4 linked regions of the Homo sapiens genome follow. Changing the gene in region 1 together with any one later gene gives a genetic interaction. Each region holds a gene or a part of one and is shown in the gene's direction. Other genes may lie near its edges.

What was found. A genetic interaction does not mean that the proteins touch.
Region 2: changes in TRAPPC13 (region 1) and DAZAP1 together harm fitness more than expected from each alone (negative genetic interaction), as found in Homo sapiens cells (one large-scale study listed by BioGRID).
Region 3: changes in TRAPPC13 (region 1) and IGF2BP1 together harm fitness more than expected from each alone (negative genetic interaction), as found in Homo sapiens cells (one large-scale study listed by BioGRID).
Region 4: changes in TRAPPC13 (region 1) and MAN2A1 together harm fitness more than expected from each alone (negative genetic interaction), as found in Homo sapiens cells (one large-scale study listed by BioGRID).

Annotation. Positions count from the first base shown.
Region 1 is NC_000005.10:65,659,527-65,663,026, forward strand, and holds part of TRAPPC13 (trafficking protein particle complex subunit 13), read left to right. Parts: intron 1-1,172; coding exon 1,173-1,371; intron 1,372-2,523; coding exon 2,524-2,624; intron 2,625-3,500.
Region 2 is NC_000019.10:1,414,086-1,417,585, forward strand, and holds part of DAZAP1 (DAZ-associated protein 1), read left to right. Parts: intron 1-3,414; coding exon 3,415-3,455; intron 3,456-3,500. UniProt on the Homo sapiens protein: RNA-binding protein, which may be required during spermatogenesis.
Region 3 is NC_000017.11:48,995,920-49,000,184, forward strand, and holds the start of IGF2BP1 (insulin-like growth factor 2 mRNA-binding protein 1), read left to right. Parts: upstream 1-1,465; 5' UTR 1,466-1,826; coding exon 1,827-2,001; intron 2,002-3,189; coding exon 3,190-3,250; intron 3,251-3,349; exon of another isoform or gene 3,350-4,265. UniProt on the Homo sapiens protein: RNA-binding factor that recruits target transcripts to cytoplasmic protein-RNA complexes (mRNPs). This transcript 'caging' into mRNPs allows mRNA transport and transient storage.
Region 4 is NC_000005.10:109,818,927-109,822,426, forward strand, and holds part of MAN2A1 (alpha-mannosidase 2), read left to right. Parts: intron 1-742; coding exon 743-961; intron 962-1,293; coding exon 1,294-1,416; intron 1,417-3,500. UniProt on the Homo sapiens protein: Catalyzes the first committed step in the biosynthesis of complex N-glycans. It controls conversion of high mannose to complex N-glycans; the final hydrolytic step in the N-glycan maturation pathway.

The DNA of each region.
Region 1 (3,500 bases):
GTAAGGGTGAATGTGGGTTTAAAAAAAGAAATACTCTCTCAACATCAAAAGAAAAGGACATAGGAATAGATGGTTTAATACTTTGTGAAAAGGAAATACATACACCTTTCCACAGCTAATTTAAAAGAGGAAGAATAAATGTAAAGTTGACAATAATACAGATAAGAAAGTAATAGGCTGGGTGTGGTGGCTCATGCCTGTAATCCTAACCCTTTGGAAGGCTGAGGCCAGAGGATTGCTTGAAGCTATGAGTTCTAGACCAACCTGGGCAACTTGGCATTTTTTTTATTTAGCTGGGCATGGTGGTACACTCCTGCATTCCTAGCTCCTTGGGAGAGAGGCAGGAAAATCGCTTGAGTCCACAAGTTCAAGGCTGCAGTGAGCCATGATTGCACCACTGTACTCCAGCCTGGTGACAGAGAGAGACCTTGTATTTTAAACAAAAAAAAAAAAAAAAAAAAAAAGAAGAAGAAGAAGAAGAAGGTAATAGCTTGGGATAGCATCTGAATTTCTTAATTAGGAATGAAAAGTTTGCTTTTATATTCTTAGGTTGGTTACACACAGAAAAGTTCATAGCCTCTTTCATCCTCACTGAGGAAAACAATTTTCCATTCTTTTCTAGATGTTTTAGTTCATTTTGAAAATTAGTTTAGAATGGTATGTCTCTTATTATTCTAAACTCTTATCTTTGATAATTTTAGAGAAAAGAGACAGGATACTTAAGGTTCTGGTTTCTGTTGCACTTTTCAGTTAATTGATACATGTTCAATTTTATAAGTAATATATTACATTCTATTATAAAGAACCTCCTTGAACCCAGAAGTTAGAAGTTACAGTGAGCTATGATCATACCACTGTACTCCAGCCTGGGTGACAGAGCAAGACCCTGTCTCTTAAAATTATTTAAAAAAAAAAAAAGGGACCCCTGCCTTTCGGGGTCCAATTACTATAAAGAACCTCAAGATTTTCGATATCAACTGAAAAAAATGAAGGAAAAATAAATCATTGCAGTATACGTTCTTTTTATTTGTATTGAAATCGTTAACATGTTCTGTTGTTGATCTTTGGAGGGTACATCATCCAGTTCCTATCCAAAGGAACAATCACAGCCATGGTTTTTCTTTTAAAAGATGCTAGAGAATTTTCTCCGTCTCTGTCTCCACCCCTCTCAGTGTGTCTACGTTTGGGTCAAGAGCATATTTGCAACCAATGGATACACGCCAGTACTTATACTGCCTAAAGCCAAAGAATGAATTTGCAGAAAAAGCAGGCATCATTAAGGGAGTAACAGTAATTGGAAAATTGGATATAGTATGGAAAACAAATCTAGGTGAAAGGGGAAGGTTACAGACCAGCCAACTTCAAAGAATGGTGAGTCTGGAAAAAACTTCGCTGGGGTTTTGGTGTGTGAAAGACAGGTAGTTAGAACAACTTAATTTTTTCTACATCCAGCAGTAAAAAATTGGAGCACTATAAAAGGCATTACTACTACTGGAGCAGAAAAGATTAATAGTGTCACTGATAGGTAGGTCGAAGACTGGTGTTGCCATGAATGAAAAATGGTCAAATGTTAATTTATCCTTAATACACGTGTTCTTTATCACACAGAAATTAAAATAACTGTTATTAAGTGTCTCTCCTTTGGTAACACATGCTCACTCTTCTTCTGATTTCCAAACACATTAAGGTTTTCTATTTTGCAATGTCCTGAAACTCTTGGACTTACTTCATTCACCTACTCAGTTCCTACCATTTTTAAGATGTTAAAAATCTGAGGCATCTCCTCAGAAGGTGAGTTCTACTAAAGTTATCTTATAAGCATTGGTTGCATATTTTACCTAATTTCTTCTCTGAGAGTAGGGATAGCTACCAGGCTTCTTTTTCTTATGCTTGTAAGAATATACGACAGGATTCTCCTCCCTTTATGCTGAATATTACCTGTTTTGACATATTCCAAATTTTACTTTTCTTTCCACTGTTTGAGGCAATAATTTTTAAAAAATGATGATGATGATTCCTGGGCCCACTTAAATATAGCCGTTAGTTATTTTTCTGCCATGGCCTGTTCCAAGCCTTCGTGTTGTTATAATCCATCCTCATCTGTGCGTCTTGTAAAAAGTCATGATTTTCTTCCTGGCTCCTTTCAACATCATCCCCCTCTTTCTTTAGAAAATAACTTTACCTATTTAGAGTTACACACATAGAAGCTACAGCATCTGGAAAGTGTCCCTTCAACTCCCTGAAATTTCTTTACTGACTACTTACCTGTGAGATTCATCTTAACTCTACTGAACATGGAATAATTATATAACAAAAACAGTCCAGGTCTGCCAGGCTATTCCACAGGCAGTAGCTGCAAAAGAATTTAAAATGAGAGACAAGTAAAGTGAATCAGAAGTATTTTCTTAGAACATCAGCTTGGAAACCCAACAGCTGTTGAGTAAATGTGCTGCTGTGGTGCCTTCATTAAAATGGAAAGGTTTTGTGATAGATATACATTAACTGTGTTGCTTGTTTTCTTAGGCTCCAGGTTATGGAGATGTTAGGTTGTCTTTGGAGGCAATACCAGATACCGTAAACCTTGAAGAACCTTTTCATATTACCTGTAAAATAACAAACTGCAGGTAATGCCACTGTTTGTAGATGGATGTCCTTTCTACCTCACCTGCCTAGAAGATAATTTTAAAATCTTTTTGTTACTATCTCCTTTTAAGTTTTCCTCTTGACATACAGCCTTCTCTGATGTTGATATTGAGTACTGTAAAATTCTTCATCTGGTAGCAGTATAATTACATATTTTTAAGGGCCTATTGTATTATGCATCTTCTGTATTTTATTTCATTCATTTGTCACACCCTATGAGGTAGGTATTCATTGTTTATACTTCCTTCACCAAAACATGAACTAATAGGTTCTTATGTATTAATATATTATGAATTGAAGTAGCAAGATTTTTTGAGGCATGCTTGTACTTGAGCTGTATCTTGAGTATTAAGAAACCAAACATTGCTTATGGATTTAATGTAAGGGGAGATCATTGATTCGAAAACTGGGTTTTGACAGTAAAGAGAGAGCATAATCTGAACTGTCAGGAAGCAAAGAGCACAGGGCTTTGAAACCAGAAAAAAATAGAATTAAGTTCCAGTCCTATGCCCTCTGCTCCTACTTGTATTACCACTTGGTTTGTATTATTATTTGGGGTATTTTTATAATATTGCAGTGATGAATCCTAGTCCTCTTAGTGTGAATGTATAATCCTTTTAATTCCATATTTATTCTTTTTGGTATTAGAAAGATAGGAAATATTTATCCTTCAAAATTACAGAAATACCCACTTCCTCTATGAAGCTACCTAGACTTTCCAAAGCACAGGTATTCATGCCTTCTCCATCATAGAAAATTTTAACTTAGTTTTTTAGTGACACTCATATATTGTGTATTTAGTGACACTCATATATTACTGTAAGTATTAGTCTCTTTCTCACTGGACTGGAATTATT
Region 2 (3,500 bases), on another chromosome or scaffold:
GCTCAGTGCAACCTCCGCCTCCCGGGTTCAAGCAGTACACCTCGAGCTCAGCCTCCCGAGTGGCTAGGATTACAGGTGCGCACCACCGAGCCCAGCTAATTTTTGTATTTTTAGTAGAGATGGGGTTTTGCCATGTTGGCCAGGCTGGTCTCGAACTCCTGACCTCAGGTGATCCGCCCACCTCAGCCTTGCAAAGTGCTGGGATTACAGGCGTGAGCCAGTGCACCCATCCCCACTGTGTGTGTTTCTACTGAAATATTTGAGAGTAGCTGGAGACCGATGCAGTCCCCTTTATGTGTACACTGAGATATCTATTGTTTCCCAAGAACAATGACATTCTCTCACATGAACACAGCACAGTGATCAAAATTGAGAAAGTGGCCGGGCGCAGCTACTCACGCCTGTCATCCCAGCACTTTGAGAGGCCGAGGCTGGTGGATCACGAGGTCAAGAGATTGAGACCATCCTGGCCAATATGGTGAAACCCCGTCTCTACTAAAAATACAAAAATTAGCTGGCGGGCGCCTGTAGTCCCAGCTACTCGGGAGGCTGAGGCAGGAGAATCGCTTGAACCCGGGAGGCGGAGGTTGCAGTGAGCTGAGATCGCGCCACTACACTCCAGCCTGGGCAACACAGCGAGACAATTTTTCAAAAAAAAATTGAGAAAGTATTTATTATTTTTTAAAATTGTATTTGAGTATTTTTTATTTTTTTAATTTTATTTAAGAGTATTTTTTATTTTTTTTTTAATTTTATTTAAGAGATGAGATCTCTGTCACCCCTGCTGGAGTGCAGTGACACAATCACGGCTCACTGCAGCCTCGACCTTGACTCAAACGATCCTTCTGCCTCAGCCTCCCAAGTAGCTGGGACTACAGGTGCCTGCCACCACCTGGAGTCTCGTTACGTTGCCCAGGCTGGTCTTGAACTCCTGGCCTCCCGTAATGCTGTGATTATAGGCGTGATCTGCGCCCAGCTGAGAAAGACAGTACTGATACCAGGTTATCTAACCCCCCCGGCCCTGTTTCAGGTTTCTCAGCTGAGCGTTTCTAGCCCTTCCCCCTTAATACACAATTTTTGAAATTTAAATGAAGACCGAAACTGGACTGGTCTGACGAGTTCCTTCTGCCAGTGAGGTGGGGGTGGAGGGGGTACTGGGCTGCTTGGAGGACACCTGCCTGTTACCTGGCTGTTGGGTGGGTGCAGTGCTGACTACAGGCTGCTGTTTCTTCAAGTGACTTGGATTTGGTTTGGTTTTCAGGGTTTTATGTGTGTGTGTGTGTGTGTGTGTGTGTGTGTGTGTGTTTTGTTTTTTTTTTTTTTTTTGAGAACTGCTTGAACTTTAATTCCAAAGGATTGTGTAAATGAGCATTTTTCCGGTCGGTTCCAGCCAGGCTTGGGGGCCCTTCCTTCATGGGGTGGGGGCTGCTGCTGGCTCCTGCTGGGTGCCGGGCCCTGCTGGCAGGGATGTGGGCGGGGCTGGCCCTGACTCAGCGCGGGCACAGCCTATGGAGAGTGAGGCACAGCCTATGGAGAGTGAGGCACGCGGAGGCCTCGCTCCTCCCACGGTCTCTAGGCCTGACCTCAACGCTCCCTGGCCTGATTGCGAAGGGTGCGTGGGAGACGTAGGATTTTAAGTTAATGAGGCCTCAACCTAAGCCTGTTGCTGTTGCGTGATCAGCATGGTTTTCCCTGAAATTTGCCTTTTCAGATCTCGTCTCTAAGGGTCAGGAAGCACAGGGCGGCTGGCACACCCCGCCTCTAATTCTTCCCGCCTCAGCCCTCCCCACCGAAGAACGGGGCTGGGGGGTTGCTTGTTGACGTTTTGAAGACGGCAGTGGGTGCCTTTCCTGTGGTGGGAACATGCTTTGTTTTTCACACACTAAATTTAAATCAGTCGTTCTTAGGGAAAAAAGAAGGAACAGGGACAAGCTCCTGGCGGTTGGCTGTGGCAGACACTTCACCAGGGGCTGACTCGCGGGGGCTGAGTGTACAGGCCCCAGGTGGTGGTTGATGAGAGGTGATGAGTGTGCCAGCCACCTTGCAGGGGTCTTTCCTGGCGAGCTGGCAGGAGCAGGGAGGAGCACGTTGCTCCTGCTGCTGGTGGGGCAGTAACGTGTTCAACCTGACAGCGACGTTTTTGCTGAAAGCCGAAGCCAAGGGTGGTGTGGTTGGCCGTCAGGGATACAGGGCCCCGCGTGGGAATGGTGCTTTCAGTGAGGCTGGCAGGATTCTTGCGGCTCAGGTGGGAGCTTTGGCCTGCACGGTGTTTTGCTCTCTGGAGACCAAGGGTGATGATGGTGCTGGCACTGAGTCACAGCTGAGATTCAGCTCAGGGACTTCATTTCTGAATGCGTGTCCTCTTTCCCAGGGAAAGCAGGCAGGATGGGAGAGTCGCCGATAGAACCACCTCTTCCCTGCCTCCTGGGCTTGGGGGAAGCTTGAATGACATCTAAGGCCCCGTGCCTGGGTAAGCCTTGTGGTGTCTCAGACATGCCCAGTGGGTGCCATGGCTGACTCAAGGTGGCACAGTCCCCATTGGGAGTTGGCACAGTCCCCATTGGGAGTTGGCACAGCCAAGGCCCTGGGGCCACCTGGAGCGGCAGTGAGGTGGAAAGGTGAGTGGGCCCTTGGGCGTCGCTGCAGGGTCGATGGCGGACGCCTTGGGAGAGCTCCAGCTCTTCTGCCCGGAGGAGACAGCCCCAGGACGGGGGTGGCGCGGGTCTTTGGTGGGGGCAGGCAGGAAGTGCCAGTGCTGAGACTGAATTTCAGGCCCTTCTCATCTGCCAATAAGAGACAGCCCCAGAATGGGGGTGGCGCGGGTTTGTCGGGGGTAAGTAAGTGGGGCCAGTGCTGAGACTGGAGCTTCAGGGCCTTCACCTTCATCTGTGGGCCTCTCGTTAGTTCGTGAGTGCAGGCTCATTGGGAGGCTTCTGTCTGTGTCCCCCCACCCCCGCCCCAGGCTGTAATTCAGAGGCCGTGTGGCATAGGCTTCTAGTTTACTGTGCATCATTTCAGATGTAGACTTCTACATTCTTTTTCCTGATTATAAAATACTCGCAAAAGCTGTAGGAAAGCGAGCCTGTGTCCCACTTGGCAGCAGTGCAGGTGAGCGTGGTGCCGTCACCACTGGCCTGTCCCAGGAACTCATCGCCCGCCACGCATGAGGTCAGCGTGCGGCTCTGTGGCACGGTCCTCTCCCCATGGCAAGGATTGGGATCATCTTTCATGTCTGCAGACAGCATGGGCGAGGCTGACTCGCCATTGCTGTGAGCTTTGTATGCCGTCACGTGCACAAGGACGTTTGCGTCAGCTGCTTCTGTGGTTTGAATTAAGACCTCAGCTTGGCTTGGATGGGGGCATTTCTAAGGCGAGCGCTGTCTTGATCCTGAATGTTTTCTCATTGAATCGCAGGAAGCTCTTCGTGGGCGGTCTTGACTGGAGCACGACCCAAGGTAGGTGGGGAAGGGGTGTCAGGTGGGTACTGCAGATGGGCTCTA
Region 3 (4,265 bases), on another chromosome or scaffold:
CCAGCCTCCGCCGCTAGAAACTCGTTGGCCTCGCTCGCCGCTCCGCCGTGGAGCCGGGGCTTGCCCGTGGACCGCGCGTCCCGCTCTCCGCCGCGTATCCGGGACTCCGAAACGCGCGGCGAGCAGCCCCCTCCCCCACCGCCCAGACGGGGTGCGACCGCCCACGTGTCGCCCCTTGCCCAGTCGGGTCCTTCCCTCGGGCTCCGGGAGCCGGAGGATCCGGAATGAGTTGGTCAAAGCCGAGGGAAGGGACCCAGGCGGATCCGCTTCCCCCTCCCCAGGAACGGCGGGAGGAGGAGGGGAGTGGCCGCCGCCCCCTCCCCTAAGCTCCCGCCCCTCGCTTCCCCGTGCGCGGAGCGGAAATTACCCCCTCCCCCCGCGGGTCTGACCTGGGGACGTGGGCGGGGCTTCCCGCTTAGCCCCCCGCCCTCCGTCCCTCTCCCGCCTTCCCGCCAGGATCGGAATCCTGCACCCCAAACAAAGTTCCGAGACCCGAACCTAGGGCCTAGAGAGCTGCCAGCAGTGTCCCGGGTGGTGCAGGCTCTGGAAACTCCACCTGTCTGTCCCCGACTCTGGGAGGGAAAAGGGGACCATTCAAATCTCCACCCGGTCACTCCCTCCCTAAGACCTCCCCCTTCAGTTCGCTCCGGTTAGCCCTAGCTATCACTCCTCTTCCTTGTCTCCCACCGTTCCTGTCTCCTGGAGTCATCTCCGGCCAGTTCCGCGTGTTCCCCTCAGGACCCCGAAACGTTATCATTTAACAGCCGGACCCCGGGTGCGAACCACCCTTTCTCCCGTGGGGATCTCAAAACATTATTTCCTGCGGCTTCCTCGTTCTCCACTGGGATACCCCGTTCCCAGCTTTCCAGTCCCGCGCTCGCAGGGTCCCCCGGTCCTGCATCCCCGGAGGCGGGGGAGTTTCGTGGGGCTGGCGTGGGGAAGGCGGAGACCCCCCCCATTTAAACATCTAGGGAAAAGGTTCCTTTCTTTTTAAATCACCAGCTCGTGCGACCCTCTCCTGAAGACCCCAGAGTCTTCGGCTTCTCTTTGTCTGTCTCGGCCGTCCCCCGCCTGTCAGTCGCTAGCAGTTAACCGGGGAGGGGTGAGCAACCCCGCCCCCCAAAACGAATGAAAAATAACCGTACATTTTACCCTTTAAGACATGTGAGATCTGGGCTGGACCATCCTCCCCCAGTTTGGGCTGGGGTAGGGGGATGGGTGGGGGCGGGGCGCTTCCCTAGGGGCCAGGTTCTTGCAAAGGGGGAAGGGGCCTGTAGAGCTTCAGGGACGCTGCCGCACCGCCCCAGTTTACCCCGGGGGTGAGTTGAGTTCCCCACCCTCAGGCGGGAGATTATCGGGTTTGGCCGGAGGGCCGAGGGGCCCTGTGGCGTCGGGGGTCTTTCCCTGCAGGGTGGGTGGGGGCTGTCACCACGTGGCTTCTCCTTTTTTTTTTTTTTTTTTTTTCCGCTCCATTTTTTTTCAAGTCGATTTTATTTAGAGGCGGCGCCAGGGCGGCCGCGGAGAAACGTGACACACCAGCCCTCTCGGAGGGGTTTCGGACCGAAGGGAAGAAGCTGCGCCGTGTCGTCCGTCTCCCTGCGCGCCGCGGGCACTTCTCCTGGGCTCTCCCCGAACTCTCCCGCGACCTCTGCGCGCCCTCAGGCCGCCTTCCCCGCCCTGGGCTCGGGACAACTTCTGGGGTGGGGTGCAAAGAAAGTTTGCGGCTCCTGCCGCCGGCCTCTCCGCCTCTTGGCCTAGGAGGCTCGCCGCCCGCGCCCGCTCGTTCGGCCTTGCCCGGGACCGCGTCCTGCCCCGAGACCGCCACCATGAACAAGCTTTACATCGGCAACCTCAACGAGAGCGTGACCCCCGCGGACTTGGAGAAAGTGTTTGCGGAGCACAAGATCTCCTACAGCGGCCAGTTCTTGGTCAAATCCGGCTACGCCTTCGTGGACTGCCCGGACGAGCACTGGGCGATGAAGGCCATCGAAACTTTCTCCGGTAAGAACACAGCCACCTCCCGGAAAAGCCACAACGAGAGCCCCGAACAACGGAGACCCGCACCTTCCGGTTCCTCTCCCGCCAACTCCTCTCTTCCCGGGCCTGCGGGGTTTGGCCTCCGTACCCACCCTCGACCTACCCCCTTCGATGCCCCCTCCCTCGCTCTGCGCCTCCCACCCCCGCGCAGAAACATTCGGGATTTCCTCATCCCTTTCTCCCAGCCTGAGATAAGGAGCTCTGGCTTCCCCCATCCTTCCTCCCCACCGACGGGGCGGGAGCCCCCACTGGCAGTAGTGGGGGGTTGAATTTAGGGACACGGGGATGACCCCTGGCTGGGCGTTATTTCCACGCCCAGCCCCTCCCTATCCGCCGGTGGACGCCCCCCCAGCTGGAAAACCCCGGCTCCCGTTCCTCAGTCTTAGGCCTTTCCAGGCGTGGAAGGGGTACCCGGACCGCCTGCGATCTGTCCGCTTCGCGTGGGGAATGCAGCCCTCCAGCAGGACTTGCAAGGAAGGGGGTCTTGCCTCCCGCCCAGGGCCTGGGGCTTGAGCCATTTTGATTTGAAAGTGGGGCGTGAGCGGGGTGGCGCGGCGGCGGCGGCGCCGGGTCGCCATGCTGCTTCCCGAGACGCCGAGGCTGGGCCGAGAGGCGCGCGCGGTGGCAGTGAGGGACCCTCCCCGCCAGGCCCCGCTCCGCTCCCCCAGGTCCACCCCTTCCCAAACCAGCCCCGACAGGTGACCGCTCCGTGGCCCAAAGCCCGTCTTCCTGGCCAACAGAGAAAAATAAAGTTTCATTCTGCACACTGCCTCCCGCCCCGCGCCCCACTTTCTGAGGAACGGGGAGCCCTTTCTTTCCTGGCTCCTTCCCACATCTGGGAGCTGTGTAGGCAGCGCACCCACACAAATGGCCTCGCACCTTTCCCAAATCGGGATTCCAGAGCGATCCACTCAACAAGCCTCAGTGATTTAATAAAGCAAAAATTAAAAAATGAATAATAACGAATTTACAGACTCCACCATTCCTAGAGCAACCTTTTTCCCATCTGGATGCGGAAGCCACTGCCTGGATTCCTAGGAAGATCTCGAATCCCAGTAACTCCTGAATTATCCTAGTGTCTTTTCCCCTTCCTCTTCCCACCCCCAACCCCTGTTCAAGCTCTCATGGTAATTTTTTTTTTTTAATCTTTAGGGAAAGTAGAATTACAAGGAAAACGCTTAGAGATTGAACATTCGGTGCCCAAAAAACAAAGGTAGGAAAGAGCTCTTTTCGGGGGGGGTGGGGGGGCCGCGGGGGTGTGCTGTGAAGCTGTGTTCAGGGGTCCATAGCGTCTCCAGTGGAAGAAACCCATTACTGGTCTTTCCCACCCCCAACTCCGGATGTTGGGGGCAGGGAGGGAAGATTGGCCAAGATCTTGTAATGGGTGGTTTACAGCTTGTAAAAAAAAAATAAATAAGTTGGGGCTGGGGTAGGCTAAAAGATGTTACTTGCAGAATTAAAGGGGAAAGAAAATCAATAGGGGAGAAACCTTGTGGAGTTTGTTTGTTCAACTCGTGGGGCCGTTTTTTGTGGGGGAACCTTAAAATCTTTGAAGAGTTCAGACTCATGGCGATTTCTGCAACTTCGTAGCAGGCCTCATTTTCTGTTTTTCCCACTCTTTCCACACCATAATTCTTAAGTGGATTGCCCTTCTCCCGAAGCGATGTGGAATGAGTTTCCCGGCCCCCAAAGAATCCCCTTATGCTTGTACTTTATTTATATTTCTACAACAGGCAAAGACTTTTTATTTTCCATGGACCCCCCACCCCCAATCCCTCATATCTCACATCATCCCTCTCCCCAGCTGGATTTTCCAAAGAATATGCCTTGGCTGTACTATCCTTTTCGAGCCCCCCTACCCCCACTCCTTCAGCCCATTGTTACCAGGGGACCATCTGGGGTGAGAGCTTTGTGTTGAGGCTGTGAGCTGGGGCTCTTTGGAGGGTCTAGAACTCCGTGGATGAATGGTGTGTGTGTGTGTGTGTGTGTGTGTGTGTGTGTGTGTGTTCGTGTGTGTTCCAATACCCTCTATCCTCTCTCTTCAGCAAAATGGGGTACCTCCATCATACTTACCGAGAATTCATGGTGGATTTCAAATCTTGCATTGAACTCTGAAACCTTTCCTTGAACTCTGGCTGGGAAGTATAAGGGCAGAGTCTTTCTACTTTCTCAAATCAGACTTTAAACATGTTGACAGTGTAGAGTTTGCTCTCATGTCCCAAGCTGGA
Region 4 (3,500 bases), about 44 Mb from region 1:
AGGACCCTCTGGGGATAACAAAATCTATGGATGCTCAAGTCCTTTATATAAAATGGCATAGTACAGATGATCCCTGACTTACAATGGCTCAACCTAGATTTTTCAATTTTATAATAGCGTGAAAGTAATGTGCATTCAGTAGCAACCGTACTTCAAGTACCCATACAACTATTCTATTTTTCGCTTTCAGTATAGTATATAATAAATTACATAAGCTATTTATATTTAGTATAAAATATGATTTGTGTTAGGTGATTCTGCCCAACTGTGGGCTAATTTAAGTGTTCTGAGTACATGAAAGGTAGACTAGGCTAAGCTATGATTTTGGATAGGTTAGGTGTATTAAACACCTTTTTGACTTACGATATTTTCAAATTCTAATTGGACATAACCCAATCATGAGTTGAGGAGCATCTGCATTTGCATATAACCTGCACACATCCTCTTGTGTATTTTAAATCATCTCTAAATTACTTGTAACATCTGATACAATGTAAATGCTATGTAAATAGTTATTATACTATAGTTTTTATTTGTATTTTTTGTTTTTTGTTTTTTTTTCAAACATTTTTTATCTGTAATTGGTTGAAACTGTGGACATGGAACCTGTGGATATGGAGGGCCAACTGGATTCTCTTTTTAAAAAATATGATAGTTTGTTGGTTTTACCAAAAATATAAATGGTTTGCCTCTCAGTAGATAACATTTATCTTTAATAAATTCCCTTCCCTATCTTTTAAAGATCTCTTTTCGAGCACATATACCGCCATTGGGACTGAAAGTGTATAAGATTTTGGAATCAGCAAGTTCAAATTCACATTTAGCTGATTATGTCTTGTATAAGAATAAAGTAGAAGATAGCGGAATTTTCACCATAAAGAATATGATAAATACTGAAGAAGGTATAACACTAGAGAACTCCTTTGTTTTACTTCGGTTTGATCAAACTGGACTTATGAAGGTATGTTCTGAATAGTTCTAAAATTCATAGAATGCTTATCATTTTTGCTACAATGTGTGTAGATTAATTAGGCAAAAGGGGAAAAAAGTCTTAAGTAGAGCTGTATCAAATACTCTTGAGTAAAAGGAAGCATGAGCTTTTTGCACCTTCATTGACCACTTGCTGCTCACATGTATAGTCTGTGGGTGGCGCTACTCCGTGGTCTGTGTGTCACTGGTCCACCAGATAAGTACAGAAATTATTTTTTTAAATTGTCATATACATAGAACCAGATGCAACATGCTTAACATCTTAGTGGTGAGTTGCTTATTATTATTTTTTTTAATCTTTAGCAAATGATGACTAAAGAAGATGGTAAACACCATGAAGTAAATGTGCAATTTTCATGGTATGGAACCACAATTAAAAGAGACAAAAGTGGTGCCTACCTCTTCTTACCTGATGGTAATGCCAAGGTAAGTGGTACTGATGAGATGACAAATGGAATAAACACTTATTGAAAGAGTATTGAGGAAAAAGATAAGTGAGTGTCATTATTTTATCATCTGTTGATTTATTAGGGATAGATGAACTTTTGGTTGCAGTATTATCTATCACCTTATTGATACTTAGCAATTTGTAGTCGAAAGTTAGATAAATGGTTGGGCGCAGTGGCTCACACCTGTAATCCCAGCATTTTGGGAGGCCAAGGAGGGTAGATTGCTTGAGCTCAGGAGTTCAAGACCAGCCTGGGCAACATGGCAAAACCCCTTTTCTACAAAAAATACAAAAATTAGGCATGGTGGCCTGCACCTACAGTCCCAGTTACTCAGGAAGGCTGAGGTGGGAGGATGGCTTGAGCCCGGAAGGCAGTTGCAGTGAGCCAAGATCACGCCACTGCACTCCAGCCTGGGTTGACGGAGCAAGACCCCGTTAGATAAATAGTTTTTTAGAGTTGGAATTTGTTAAGATGCTACAATGAACAATGTTCAGTTAGGATAAACAATGAACATGGGAAGAAACTAGATTTTACGTAGAGTTAGGGAGCTTTATATGTATGCATTTTATACAGACACAAAACCTCTAGCCGTATGGGAAAAATAGATTTTCCACTGGACCATTTTTCTCCTTAACTTTCAGCCCTTTAAAAAACAAATCTTTCTCACTCTTGACTATAAAGGTAGTAATACGCAAACTCTGGCACATTTTGAAAATGCCAGAAACTAAAGAAAACATTAAAATTTACCAACAGGTGCACAATCCCATGAAAACCATTGCCAACATTTGGATGTATTTCTTATTGTCTTTTATTTTATGCATATCCTTTTCTCCCCGTTCTCAAGTCTTGACTTATTGCATGTACATATTTTGTTTTTCATTTGTGACAGTGCTCACAATCTGATGGTATGTTTTTTAAAAATCCAATTTTAATATATACTGTTGTGTTTAAGATGTTGCTTATATTCTTTTTCTCCCGATTCTTCACTACCATAACATTGTAATAAGCTTTCTTTGTAGCATTCAAAAAGAATGCTACAATGCAATTCTGATTAATTGCTGAGAATAACTTTCTAGAAGAGTCATTTTGTATCAGTGTCTGAAGTCTTTTAAGGACTTTTGCTGTGTACTGCTTATCTTCCCTCTAGAAAGACTAGGTAAATGTTCAATCCCACCAGCATTTTTTGAGATTAACTCTAAAATCCCACTCCAAGCACTGAGAATTGGCCATATTACAAGCTTTGCCTATAATAGTAAGTTAGTAGAAAAATATTTTTCTGTTAAGATTTTTGTGGTTACTAGTAAGGTTGAACGTTTTTGTACCTTCATTTATCTTTCATATTTCTTTTGTGATTTTCCTATTTCTATTCTTTGACTGTTTTTCTGTTGGTGTGTCCTGATGATCTCTGAGCACTCTATATGTGGTAAAATTAATCCTTTTCCCTATATGTTGTAAAATTTTTCTTATTGTGTCATTTAGTTTGTTAATTATTTTATTGTATTTCTCATTTATAGTGGTTTTAAATTTTTGTGTAGTCATTTCTTTTTTTTCTGTAGAGTTTCTTCCTTTGCTTTTATACCTTTATAGGTTTTCTATACCTCAAGATCAGTGAAATGTTATCCTAATTATTGTCTTGTTAGCTAGGGACCTATCTCCTGAAAAAGTTACTTTTGTTCCACAAGTTATGAAACCTGCTAACTAAAATCCAATACTGGATTTTAAGGGATTGTGTAGGCTACAGTAAGGACTCTAGGTTTTTTGTTTGTTTTTGTTTTTGGTTTTTTTTTTGGCTGTTTGGGGTTTTTCTTTTTTTTTTTTTTTAAGTCAGTGAAGAATTAAAGACAAACTACAACTCATATGAGGCATTCCAGGATGGGCAGTGAGTCCCAAATATGAGCTGTTTCAGTGTTTTCTCATTCACCAGCTTTTGTCATTGGACATTTTATTTTGATTGACTGTATTTATACTTAAAAAAGTAGTTGTGCTATAGAATTTCATGCGTAGATACCAATAACTAATTTATTTAAAACCATTTTATCTTTAAATAGCTCTAATGTCAGA